Homo sapiens: one gene and its partner. The protein of the gene in region 1 interacts with the protein of each later gene in a pairwise test. Each region holds a gene or a part of one and is shown on either strand. Other genes may lie near its edges.

Region 1 (7,026 bases):
CAAACATGTCCATCTGAGAGAAAAATCAAAATCAGGTATAAATTTGCCCCCTAAAAATTAAATGATAGAAGACTAGAAAGTGAGGAGTGATTAGGAAATTAAATCAGGATGCTCATAATTTTCATAATGGTGAGACTTTTAAAACTTAATCATTGATTCTTTTTTTTTCTAGGTAATTTTTCTTTTTTTTTTTTTTAATATTTTTTTTATTATACTTTAAGTTTTAGGGTACATGGCACATTGTGCAGGTTAGTTACATATGTATACATGTGCCATGCTGGTGCGCTGCACCCACTAACTCGTCATCTAGCATTAGGTATATCTCCCAATGCTATCCCTCCCCCCTCCCCCCACCCCACCACAGTCCCCAGAGTGTGATGTTCCCCTTCCTGTGTCCATGTGATCTCATTGTTCAATTCCCACCTATGAGTGAGACTATGCGGTGTTTGGTTTTTTGTTCTTGCGATAGTTTACTGAGAATGATGATTTCCAATTTCATCCATGTCCCTACAAAGGACATGAACTCATCCTTTTTTATGGCTGCATAGTATCCCATGGTGTATATGTGCCACATTTTCTTAATCCAGTCTATCATTGTTGGACATTTGGGTTGGTTCCAAGTCTTTGCTATTGTGAATAGTGCCACAATAAACATACGTGTGCATGTGTCTTTATAGCAGCATGATTTATAGTCCTTTGGGTATATACCCAGTAATGGGATGGCTGGGTCAAATGGTATTTCTAGTTCTAGATCCCTGAGGAATCGCCACACTGTCTTCCACAATGGTTGAACTAGTTTACAGTCCCACCAACAGTGTAAAAGTGTTCCTATTTCTCCACATCCTCTCCAGCACCTGTTTCCTAACTTTTTAATGATTGCCATTCTAACTGGTGTGAGATGGTATCTCATTGTGGTTTTGATTTGCATTTCTCTGATGGCCAGTGATGATGAGCATTTTTTCATGTGTTTTTTGGCTGCATAAATGTCTTCTTTTGAGAAGTGTCTGTTCATGTCCTTCGCCCACTTTTTGATGGGGTTGTTTGTTTTTTTCTTGTAAATTTGTTTGAGTTCATTGTAGATTCTGGATATTAGCCCTTTGTCAGATGAGTAGGTTGTGAAAATTTTATCCCATTTTGTAGGTTGCCTGTTCACTCTGATGGTAGTTTCTTTTGCTGTGCAGAAGCTCTTTAATTAGGTATTGTTGGGACGTATTTCAAAATAATAAGAGCTATCTATGACAAACCCACAGCCAATATCATACTGAATGGGCAAAAACTGGAAGCATTCCCTTTGAAAACTGGCACAAGACAGGGATGCCCTCTCTCACCACTCCTATTCAACATAGTGTTGGAAGTTCTGGCCAGGGCAATTAGGCAGAAGAAGGAAATAAAGGGTATTCAATTAGGAAAAGAGGAAGTCAAATTGTCCCTGTTTGCAGACGACATGATTGTATATCTAGAAAACCCCATTGTCTCAGCCCAAAACCTCCTTAAGCTGATAAGCAACTTCAGCAAAGTCTCAGGATACAAAATCAATGTACAAAAATCACAAGCATTCTTATACACCAATAACAGACAAACAGAGAGCCAAATCATGAGTGAACTCCCATTCACAATTGCTTCAAAGAGAATAAAATACCTAGGAATCCAACTTACAAGGGATGTGAAGGACCTCTTCAAGGAGAACTACAAACCACTGCTCAATGAAATAAAAGAGGATACAAACAAATGGAAGAACATTCCATGCTCATGGGTAGGAATAATCAATATCGTGAAAATGGCCATACTGCCCAAGGTAATTTACAGATTCAATGCCATCCCCATCAAGCTACCAATGACTTTCTTCACAGAATTGGAAAAAACTACTTTAAAGTTCGTATGGAACCAAAAAAGAGTCTGCATCGCCAAGTCAATCCTAAGCCAAAAGAACAAAGCTGGAGGCATCACACTACCTGACTTCAAACTATACTACAAGGCTACAGTAACCAAAACAGCATGGTACTGGTACCAAAACAGAGATATAGATCAATGGAACAGAACAGAGCCCTCAGAAATAACACCGCATAGATCTGATCTTTGACAAACCTGAGAAAAACAGGCAATGGGGAAAGGATTCCCTATTTAATAAATGGTGCTGGGAAAACTGGCTAGCCATATGTAGAAAGCTGAAACTGGATCCCTTCCTTACACCTTATACAAAAATCAATTCAAGATGGATTAAAGACTTAAACGGTAGACCTAAAACCATAAAAACCCTAGAAGAAAACCTAGGCATCACCATTCAGGACATAGGCATGGGCAAGGACTTCATGTCTAAAACACCAAAAGCAATGGCAACAAAAGACAAAATTGACAAATGGGATCTAATCATTGATTCTTAATATGTAATTGGTTACGGTATACTGGTTACTGCTTTAGGCATGATAGGCAAATGCTGAATTCCCAAACGAAGCTGTCTCACTGAGTTTTAAATTAGGCCATATATGTAAAGTTAAAATATAAGGGAATGGAGTAGGCTAAGATTTTTTAAACAGTTTACAAAAAGCATTGCCATTAAAGAAACAATGATAAATTGAACTTTATTTAAATTGAGAACTTACCTTCATCAAAAGACAGCATTAAGAGTCAGGCATGGTGGCATATGCCCATAGTCCGAGCTACTCAGCAGGCTGAGGCAGGAGGACTGTTTGAGCCCAGGAGTTCAAGGTCAGCCTGGAAAACATAGTGAGAACTTGTCTCAACCAATCAATAATATACACATACATAAGACAATACGAAGAGAATGAAACATCACTGCATCCATATTACAATAACTAAAGTTAAAAGCATTTGACAGTGCCATTCTGAGGGAGGATATAAAGCAATTGAAACTCATATTTTGCTGATGGGAGTACAAATTGGTACAACTAATTTGGAAGACTATTAGCAGCATCTAAATCTAAATCAGCATCTATTATCATTGTACTAAATCTGAAAATAATGCATACCCTTTGGAGAAATTCTACTTTACACATGAATACCTAGGTCCATCAAAAGACATGTACAGGAATATCCATAGCAACAACTGTGGACAGTTAAATAAGTTACGGCATATGTATATAACAGAATATTTTATAGCAATAAAAAGCAATGAATTATATGCAACAGCAAGGTGAACTTCACTTACCAATTGTTGAGGAAAATAAGCCAGACAAAAAGTTTAAAAATAGGCAATTTACATTTTGATAAAGGTTGGATTAGTACTTACCTTTTGGGGAGGGGAAAAAATGGGAGGGAACACTGGGGGGTCTTCTAGATTTCTGCATTTGTTCTGTATTTTGTTCTTCACATTTTTTCAAGCTGAATACTTTGTATATATGCACTTTGTGTAATTTAAAACGTAATTAACAATTAAAATATAACTAATGTTTTAAATATAAAGAACATAAACAAGTACCTTTTTTAAGGTTTAGCTTTTAGTTTGTTTCTTCTTTTCTTTCTTTCTTTCTTGCATCTTTCATGGAGATAAAGAGGGTGAGCTGAAGAAAATTGGAACTTGGAACAGACAAGAATGCAGAAAGTGAGAGGACACAGAAAAAATAGTAAAATGGGCAAGAGACAGCCTTTAAGCATATGGGTTGGTAGAAAAATCTGAGAAGAAATGAAGTAGGGATAGTTAGATTAATAACAATGTGCAAACCATGAAAAAAGGTATTTTTTGCACTCTACAAATGTGGCACTACACACTATTCTAATTTTCTGTGTAGTAACCAGTTGACCAGCGCTTAGTAACAGTCCGTATTCTTAGGGGTTTGAATCCTGAAGTGGTTTCATTTGGTATGCTGACTGTCCTTGTTTCATATCCATCCTAGTTCTATGGGACGCCTTCTCCAAAATAAGCATACTGTAAAGGCTTATAGATAACTTAAACTAAAAGAGGAAATTTATAATTACTTTGAACAGTTTTAAAGAAAGTATCAGGCTAGATATTAGGACAATGCCAAAGTTCACTAACTAGCTTTTTGCAGGTTTAATAATGATATTGCTTTCCTTCCCATTATCAATCTATATTATATAGTTAAGTTGTTTTACTTCAAATGTCTCCAATCGACATTTCCTTTGTATGCATATACTGAAATGATATTTAATAAAAAAGAACATCTCCTGTGTGGAGTTTAAATTTCTCTTATTAAATATTTATATTTTCAAAATGTCTTTATTTAATTGAGTGAGGTGCTTGGTGCCATTTCAAAATAACCTCAGGTGGTAGGTGTAATGACATATCAAAGATTTGACCTTTAGCATTTTAGGATTCTATTTGTCTGCATTTTCTTCTGCATTCATTTAGTCTTAATTTATATGCTATTTCTCTGTATGACTTAATGAGTAGATGTATTCGTTAAGAGATTCATTAGCCAAAAAAAAATATACACATGTATATATGAATACATTTTATTTCTGTGCAATCTGACTAGTGATTTTAAATTCATTTATATCTCAACTGTGACAAGTAGAAGATCAAGTAGAAAATGCTATGTAGAAGGCTGGTCAGTGTTTGCATAAACCTCATCCATTCTCATTAAGTGCTTGGCAGAATAGACCCTCGATCTCCTAAACCAATGCCCATTCTCTTCTCACTTCTTTCAGCTTATTACATTCTTTTATTTGCCTAGAGATACTTTATTTTCCAGTTCTCTGCTATTCCTTTTAAAGAAAATTGAATGTAATATTTACACTGATATAATTAAATTAACATCTTGCAGCATCTTTTTGTATGCTTTGGTAGCATAATCATTTGTCTGGGTAGCTTTCAGCCTAGAAGCAGAGAAATTATCAATTATAATGTTGTGACATAAAAATTATTTTCATTTGCTCATTTAAGTATTTATTGATTTTTAGAACTAGAGATTCTAAATGGAGGTTTTTGTTAAATAGATCATAGATCACTCAGTTTACATTACTTATCTTTAAATTTTTTTTAATATTTTCTCAGTTTACACAAATCTTTATCTCAAGAAGAAAATCTGAAGGATCAGTTTAACTATACCCTTAGTACATATGAAGAAGCTTTAAAAAACAGAGAGAACATTGTTTCCATCACTCAACAACAAAATGAGGAACTGGCTACTCAACTGCAACAAGCTCTGACAGAGCGAGCAAATATGGAATTACAACTTCAACATGCCAGAGAGGCCTCCCAAGTGGCCAATGAAAAAGTTCAAAAGTAAGTTAAATGATCTTGTAATAATACTTCAAACACATGAAACAAAACAAAACACTTTCTTTTGGGAACTAAACAATATGTAGTTATTGATCATGTTAATAGTTTAGAACAAAAGTAGAATTAACCCAGTGAACTTTTTTAGATTGGATACCATATGCCATATTTGGGGTCAAAAAAGTCATTTTCTTGGGAACCATTGTTACCCTGTAGGGCAAACCATTTTTATTTAATAACTGATCATCAGTTCATGGAGGCCATACTATTTAAATCATTTCACAGTCACAAGTTAATAGGCAAAGTTATTAGCAAGGGGAAGAGGCAGTCAAGTTACCACCTGAACTAATTTAGCTTTACAATAATCCTGCTTGAGTTGAGATCATCTGTGACATTGCAACCTGAGACTTGTAGGTGCATAAAAACCAGTAGGGTGAAATTAATTTTCTTGTGTTGTTCTTCTGAAGTATTCAATACTGCTTTTCACAGTGCATAATTATATATGTTTATTTTGAATGATCTTTGCATTTTTATTAGAATTTAAATAAAGCTGCATAATCTGTCAGTCCTTTTGACAGCTAGCAAAATGTTAACAAACAGCTTACCAGGCAAAGAAGTCACTTGTTAATTTAATGGACTTGAACATTGTAGCAGAATTTTCTGAGACACCTTTAATGTAATAGAACCACTGTAATAGAATACATAGAACACATGTAATAGAATATATTTTAACCTTCTTTATGTATTGTTAACAGCACTACAGCATTCACATATCTAGTCACCTTCAATTTCAAAGATATACCTTTTTCCTTAACAATTTTTATGTCAGTTTTACACTGTGAAGCAGTGCTCACATCAAGGTTTCTTACTTCCCACTACTTCTTATTTGAAAATGTCATCTTGACCATTTCCTCAATATCCCTGAAGTTATATTTTGATTAATAGCCAAAGTTATGTAAGTCAGTAGTTTTAAATTAGACCATTTTAAAACAGTTTAGAAATTGTGCATTTTAATCTTTACTAGCCATGTACCTTGAAACTTTTGATTTATGTAGGTATTATATATATTTGTAAGTTTAAAGATGGGGTTTATATTCAGTCAGAAACTATATGCAGTTATTCACAATGTACGTTAATATTCTAAGAACACTATGATGTATAGGTAGATCTCATTTCATTATAAATCACAATCAGTAACTTTTGACAGGATCTGATTTGGCTCTGTTTGCTTAAAGTCTACAAATACATACAAATTTCAAATTTTTCTTTATATATAATCCATTAATTTCTATACATGACCAAAATTCCCTAAAACAGTGGTTCCCACAGACCAATTCTATTTTCAAAAAATCTTCGGATGTGTTATCAACCTTTTATTTTTTAGATCTCATCAACTATCATCATCATTTCATTTAAAAAAACAATTTTTATACACCAAGAAGTAGAAATAATATCATCTCAGATAATGTTTTAAATTAAATAACTTTACTGAATGGCCAAGATAACCAAATAGGAACAGCTCTAGTCTGCAGCTCCCAGTGTTGATCGACACAGAAGATGGGTGATTTCTGTATTTCCACCTGAGATACCTGGTTCATCTCGTTGGGACTGGTTGGACAGTGCATGCAGCCCACCGAGGGTGAGCCAAAGCAGGGCAGGGTGTCACCTCACCTGGGAAGCACAAGGTGTCGGGGGATTTCTTTTTCCTAGCCAAGGGAAGCCGTGACAGACTGTACCTGGAAAATCGGTACACTCCCACCCAAATACTGTGCTTTTCCCACAGTCTTACCAACCTGCAGACCAGGAGATTCTCTCTCATGCCTGGCTTG
Region 2 (7,026 bases), on another chromosome or scaffold:
GAGAGCAGTCCGGGAGCATCTGGTGGTGAGTCTGCCCCACTGCCTGATGCTCCCTCCACCTGGTGCTCCCTGCCTCTCTCTGTGGTCAAGGTAGGGGACGAGATCGTCCGGATCAATGGATATTCCATCTCCTCCTGTACCCATGAGGAGGTCATCAACCTCATTCGAACCAAGAAAACTGTGTCCATCAAAGTGAGACGTGAGTGAGGCCAGAGCAGGGCAGTACTCCATGACGGTGGGAGGGAGGGAGGGCGGGGGAGCAGGGCAGTACTCCATGACGGTGGGAGGGAGGGAGGGCGGGGGAGCAGGTCAGTACTCCATGACGGTGGGAGGGAGGGAGGGCGGGGGAGCTGTCCTAACCCCTGTGCCTTTCTCCCGCAGACATCGGCCTGATCCCCGTGAAAAGGTGAGAGGCCCCTCCTCTGCAGGCCAACTCTTCCCTGTGGGCCCAGGATCCTGGTACAGCCCTGGGGTCCGGCTCCCACCATGCCAGCCCTGCTTCTGGGCCAGTGGAGGCTGGAGGCTCTAGACATGGTGGATCTGGATGTGGGGCCTGGTTCCTCAAACGTCTCTCGCTAACCACCCTCCCATCTATTTTCCCTTCCCATCAGCTCTCCTGATGAGCCCCTCACTTGGCAGTATGTGGATCAGTTTGTGTCGGAATCTGGGGTAAGGGCCAGACCTCCTGTGATGGGGTTTGGGTGGGGTCATCTTCAAGGAGGGGTGGCCGGTCCTGAAGGGAGGGCTTGCTCTAGAGATGCACCCTCAGGGGCTTCACACAGGCTCCCAGGGCAGCCAGCACACCGCTGTGGGGCAGCAGCCCTCGGCCAGGCCCAGCTGGTGCAGACACATCCCCAGGGACGGAATGATGATCTGGCTGGCGTGAGTTCAGCAGTGCTCGCCCTGCAGATCCCACAAGCTCAAGAGGCCGCTTGCACGCATGTGGACACTCCGTGATTCTGCTTCTATCTCTCTTTCAGGGCGTGCGAGGCAGCCTGGGCTCCCCTGGAAATCGGGAAAACAAGGAGAAGAAGGTCTTCATCAGCCTGGTAGGCTCCCGAGGCCTTGGCTGCAGGTGGGTGGCAGGCATGCCCTGGGGTCATTCGTGGCCAGTGCACCCCAGCAGGCCCCTATTGCCCTCCCCTTCCTCACTGCCACTTCCGAGGAAACCTTGCCCACCAGGGGTGTGACTGTCCATGGGTGATGATACTTTTTTTGTTAGATACAGGGTCTGACTCTGTTGCCCAGGCTGGAGTGCAGTGGCATGATCATAGCTCACTGTAGCCTCAACCTCCCCAGCTCAAGCAATCCTCCCACCTCAGCCTCCTGAGTAGCTGGATCTACAGGAACACACTGCCATACCCAGCTAACTTTTAATTTTTTTGTAGAGATGGAGTTTTGTTATGTTGCCCAGGCTGGTCTCAAACTCCTGGGCTCAAGTGATCCTCCCACCTCAGCCTCCCAAAGCCCTGGGATTAGAGGCATGAAGCACCGCACCCAGCCTTGGTGTTGACACTTCTTGGTGCCTGATTTCCCCTCTGAACTTCATGACAGGCCTTTAGGGCCAGAGGGTCATCTCTAACAGAGCCCAATTTACAGATGAGGAAATTGAGGCCCAGAGGCAGAACAGTGTTACCTTGTGGGCCCTTGAGTCACTGCAAAAGGAGCCTGTTTGGCTGGTCATCTCTGTCACAGCTCTCTTGTCACTTATTAACTTGTTGGCTTCCTTAAGAGGCAGACAGGGAATTCCGAACAGACACTGGGCCACACGGGGCTTAAGCATGCAGGTGCCACCGTTACTCAGATCCCAGTTCCAGCCCTGCTTTCCCACTTAAGAGCTCTGGAACCTTGGGCCAGTTACTTAACCACTTTGAGCCTCAGTTTCTCCCTCTATAAATGGGCGATAATAATTCCCACATCACAGGGTGGTTGTGGAGAAAGTAAAGTGCCAAACTTAGTACCTGCTAAATAGTAAGCAGTTGGTAAATATTAGCTATTATTATTTAAGTTATCCCTGTTCTTTCCTTTCATTCACATTTATTCAATGTTTTGTGCCAAGCACAAGTGATAAAAAGTCCCACCTTTCTGGGAGACAACAGCCTAATCTAGAAGCCAACCAAGTAAATAGTTATAATATAGGGTGATAGGGACTCGAACGGGACTACATTCTGCGTCCAGGATGGCAAATAGGTGCCATCTCTAGTCAATGAGTAGCAGCTCCCTGGAGTGCTGCTTTGAAAAGCATTCTAAAGCTGTATCCAGGATTGTGGGAAAGAGTGCTGTGATCAATGAGTGACTTCTGCCACCAATCTAGGAAGGAATACTAACAGTACATGTACCATCCTTGCCGTAAATGTCATAGGAGCACTGAGAACAGAGCGGCTAGTTTAGTCTTGGGATAGAATAAGGGATCTGAGCCAGGCATGGTGGTGCACACCTGTAGTCGCAGCTAGGCTGAGGTGGGAAGATTGCTTGATCCCAGGAGTTGGAGGTTGCAGAGAGCTATGATCACACCACTGCACTCCAACCTGGGTGACAGAGCAAGACCCTGTCTCTAAAAAATAAATTTAAAAAAATAAGAGGATCTGGTAAAAACCTTATAGAAGGGATAGCATTTGAGTCTTAATGGATGGACAGGAAAGTGCTAGAAAGAAAGAAGAAACAGCATATGAGGTATATTAGGTGAGAGGTTGGGTAGGAAGAATTACAAGGATTTTTCTGTGGCTGTTGCCCAGGGTAGCAGTAGAAATCAGGCTGGAGAGGGACACAGAGGCTGAAGAGGTAGGCAGTCAAGGGCCTTCAGTCCTCAGCTCATGAGTGACCTGTATCCTGAGCACTGGACATGGGTTACCTGAATCCCGAGCACACATTTCCCACCTCCCGCAGCATTTCCAGCGGCCCCATCCAGAAGCCTGGCATCTTTATCAGCCATGTGAAACCTGGCTCCCTGTCTGCTGAGGTGGGATTGGAGGTGAGTGACGCTGGGCCGGCCCCAGTGGGGGCCCACTGGAAATTGGGTCAGACTGTGATCCCGCGGTGACAGGGGCAGGTGCCTTTCCACATGGCCCTCTTTCAGTGGACACTGAGGGAGTAGGAGCCCTACCCACCCTGCAGAGAAGGCTTCACAGACTGGGGATGTTTGACCCTTCTGCAGCCTTCCCCAGCTCTGATAGTTGTTGGTCACGAGCTTGGGAATGTCGTAATGGTAATCAAAGAGCGGACCTTCAGTGTCCACTTGCATCAGACATTGTTCCATGCCCTTTACACTTCACAAGAATGCTGAGGGTTAAGTACCACCATTATCCCCACTTTACATATGAGGAAACTGAGACCCAGAGAAAGTATATGATTTTTCCAAAATCGTGTACCTCATATGGTAGGGCTGGGATTCAAACCTAGGTGGTCCAATCCCAAAGCAGGAACCCTTAACCTCTTCTTTGGACAAGTTACTTCATGTCTGTTTGCTTACCTGTAAGATGGGGATAATACAGGCTTTCTTCCAAGGTTGTTGTGTGGGTTAAAGTAATTAATATGTATACTAGAGCTGTGCCAAGCACATTGTAAGTGATCAGTGAATGTTAGCTATTCTGTTATGACGATTCAACACAGCCTGTGCTAAATGAGAAGCTCAAAGGTTCCCGCATCTGCAAACTGTGATTTTTAAAGCAAATGTCATCAAATTTAGCCAAAGAAATGAACATGTAATGGTATAATATTTGATAGTTGATAAGATAGTTATGAAGTAGGGGAGTGCCAGGGTCAGCTTTAAGCCCTCCCAGAGCTCCACCAGAGCTTTCCAACTGCTCCATTCATCAGGAGGAGCTGAGGTACTGCCACTTGAAGATCCAGCATCTGACCCAGAGCCCCTGGGGGAGCCTGTCCTGCAGATGAGCGAGTGTACAGATAGCGCAAACACACTAATCTTTCTCCATTTCCCCACCAGATAGGGGACCAGATTGTCGAAGTCAATGGCGTCGACTTCTCTAACCTGGATCACAAGGAGGTGAGATGTGGGGGTCTTCACCTGTTGGCCCTTGTCATCTCCACACCCCACTTCTCATCCCCACCACCCTGGAGCCTGGGGCCTTCTGTGCTCTCTGCCTGGACTGCTGTGGTCTGTCAGGCCTCGGCCCACTGTCCTTCTGTCCCCACAGGCTGTAAATGTGCTGAAGAGTAGCCGCAGCCTGACCATCTCCATTGTAGCTGCAGCTGTAAGTCCAGAATGAGCTGGTGGGAGCCCCTTGACCTTCATCCCCAGCCCCTCTGACCTTTGATCTCTGCCACACACTCCCAGGGTGGCTGGTCTCCTTCCCTGAAGCTCTGACAGAGCAGAGCGAGAGGACTTCTGCCCAGCAAGAAGTTTGGGTCAGGGATTGCGGGAGCCGCAGTGCCTGATGGTGCTGAGAAGACCACCTGCATCTCGGCCCCCAGGGGTGTGTCAGGGGATCCCCAGGTTCCCCGGGGGCTGAGCAAGGGGCCTCTTTTCTCCCATGAGGGCCGGGAGCTGTTCATGACAGACCGGGAGCGGCTGGCAGAGGCGCGGCAGCGTGAGCTGCAGCGGCAGGAGCTTCTCATGCAGAAGCGGCTGGCGATGGAGTCCAACAAGATCCTCCAGGAGCAGCAGGAGATGGAGCGGCAGTGAGTGCAGCCAGCCCTGGATGCCCTGTCCCGCCTCCCACCCCACCACACGACCCCACCTAGCTTGCTTCCTGCCCGCTGTGTCCCCAGCCAACTTCCTCCTCCTCCCTGGAGGCCAGTCCTCAGACCAGATGAGTTTGGTGGTAGGTCAGCGTATCCATCCTTGGCCTCAGACCACCTGGCTCCTTCCTCCTTGCTGAGCAGAGCCCCCTGTCTTCCAACATTCCAAGAATATGGAAAATAAGCATCCTACTAGCAGTAGGCTCTAGCTAGCTAGGATTAGCTACCAGCTAACATTTGTCAAGTACCTCCATAAGGCTGGTGTTGTATTAGGGCCTTGTTTATGTTTCTTAATTCCCACAATAGCCCTGGGAGGTAGAGAGTATTAACCCCATTTTAGAGGTGTGGAGACTGACACTCAGAGAGGTGAAGCCACTTGTGTCTAACGTCACACGTGGCCAAGCTGGGATCACCCCCAGGCAATCTGGCAAGTCCCCACAGGGCTGCCCTGCCTATAGTGATGAAGCTCACCCTTGTCCAGGAGGATTGAAATGATGGCCTAAGAGAATAAATGGGGTGAGCAATTCATAAATCAAAAACTACTGTCAAGATCCAAATCCAAATACCTTTTAGGCATTTAAAAGTATTTCATGGCTGGACGCAGTGACTCACGCCTGTTATCCCAGCACTTTGGAGGTCGAGGCCGGCAGATCATCTGAGGTCAGGAGTTCGAGACCAGCCTGGCCAGCATGGTGAAACTGTGTCTCTACTAAAAATACAAAAAAAAATTAGCTGGGCATAGTGGCATGCGACTGTAATCCCAGCTTCTCGGGAGGCTGAGACATGAGAATCACTTGAACCTGGGAGGCAGAGGTTGCAGTGAGCTGATATCGCACCACTGAACTCCTGGGTGCAAAGTGAGACTTTGTCTCAATCAATCAATCAATTAATGTATTTTGAAAAGGAAAGAGGAAAGGCTGTCCCCATCTCCCCCAACACAGAGTTAGCTGGGAGTATTCCACCTGGCTAGGAGCCCCTGCTTTGCTCCTGGGGTCAGTCCAGGCCCCGCCTGTCATCAGTCACCTTACCTAAGTGTTTGGAGGAGGGTGCATGGAGTGTGGCCTTCACATGGATCTGCTTCCCTCCTCCCACAGCCCAGCATCTCTGCTCAGCCATGCCAGACAAAACCACGCAAGAGCACAGCGTCCAGACTTTGTTAGATAACGTCCCCCAAAACCAAAGCTGGTCCAGGCCTCCTAGGAAGGGAGCCTGGAGAAAAATCCAACTTTTCTCCAAATCAAGAATTCACAGTAAGGAAGAGTTCATTTCTCTTGCATAGGGCCAAACATGCCAATCTGCATTTGTGTTTCAGAAGGAGAAAAGAAATTGCCCAGAAGGCAGCAGAGGAAAATGAGAGATACCGGAAGGAGATGGAACAGTGAGTACCTCGGCTCCACGCGTGTCTGTGCATGAACATCAGTGTGCTCAGGGGAGTGTGGCCAACCAGAGGCTGCCTCCAGAACCAGTTTACCTGGTTCTCTCATCCCCTGGTGGGTCCTCCTTTATTTGTAGTAAAGCCTGTCATATTATAGTAACTGAAACATAGTCTCGTATAATTGCCAAGGTGGGGTTCACACTCAATTTAGAATACAAGCTCGGGGACTTTGCTTGATTCATCATGACTAGAACCATGAGGCTTCTCCCCAGGCTGGCTGGGGCTCTCCGATATGCAGGAGATGGGCCTATGGGGGTTCTGACTCCAGTAACAGGCATGGGGGTCTCATTTTAGGATTGTAGAGGAGGAAGAGAAGTTTAAGAAGCAATGGGAAGAAGACTGGGGCTCAAAGGAACAGCTACTCTTGCCTAAAACCATCACTGCTGAGGTACACCCAGTACCCCTTCGCAAGCCAAAGTGTAAGTTTCATGAGCCGAGGGGAGAGGCTAAGGGAACTAGTCAGAAATGCTGGCCCTCCCTCCCCTCACCACCACCTCCTAGATGGATAGCCCTTGGTGCTCTGGGCTGTGGTTCCTTCATGGAGGGGCAGCTGTGGGTCAGAGACCATCTGCCCCAGCATCGAGGTAGGAGGGATCTGTCTGCTCCCCTTGTTCACGGGCCAGCTCCACATACCCAGCTCCCAGGTCCCCCACAACACTGACATGGGCAGGCTGTCAGGCTGCTGAAGAGGGAATAAGGGCCATAGTGAAAGTGGATTAGCTCATGGGATTACCGTCCTAATGTTTTGGGTACCATGTCCTCCTCCTACTTGGTTCTGAACAGGGGCTGGGGTGAAGCCAGCAGCAGAAAAGAGGGGAAGGACCTCACATCAGAGAAGGGCTCTGGTGGTCCAAGGTTGATTCATAACTGTGGGAGGAGCTTACTAAGTGTCT

Evidence for each region. Proteins that work in one complex are often made in the same cells at the same time.
Region 2: the proteins of MIPOL1 (region 1) and USH1C interact in binary tests that used the Homo sapiens proteins (3 or more experiments, as listed by UniProt).

Annotation. Positions count from the first base shown.
Region 1 is NC_000014.9:37,494,936-37,501,961, forward strand, and holds part of MIPOL1 (mirror-image polydactyly gene 1 protein), read left to right. Parts: intron 1-4,972; coding exon 4,973-5,203; intron 5,204-7,026.
Region 2 is NC_000011.10:17,520,396-17,527,421, reverse strand, and holds part of USH1C (harmonin), read left to right. Parts: intron 1-90; coding exon 91-199; intron 200-381; coding exon 382-406; intron 407-611; coding exon 612-669; intron 670-980; coding exon 981-1,075; intron 1,076-2,886; coding exon 2,887-2,971; intron 2,972-3,943; coding exon 3,944-4,003; intron 4,004-4,154; coding exon 4,155-4,211; intron 4,212-4,495; coding exon 4,496-4,638; intron 4,639-6,010; coding exon 6,011-6,076; intron 6,077-6,427; coding exon 6,428-6,552; intron 6,553-7,026. UniProt on the Homo sapiens protein: Anchoring/scaffolding protein that is a part of the functional network formed by USH1C, USH1G, CDH23 and MYO7A that mediates mechanotransduction in cochlear hair cells. Required for normal development and maintenance of cochlear hair cell bundles.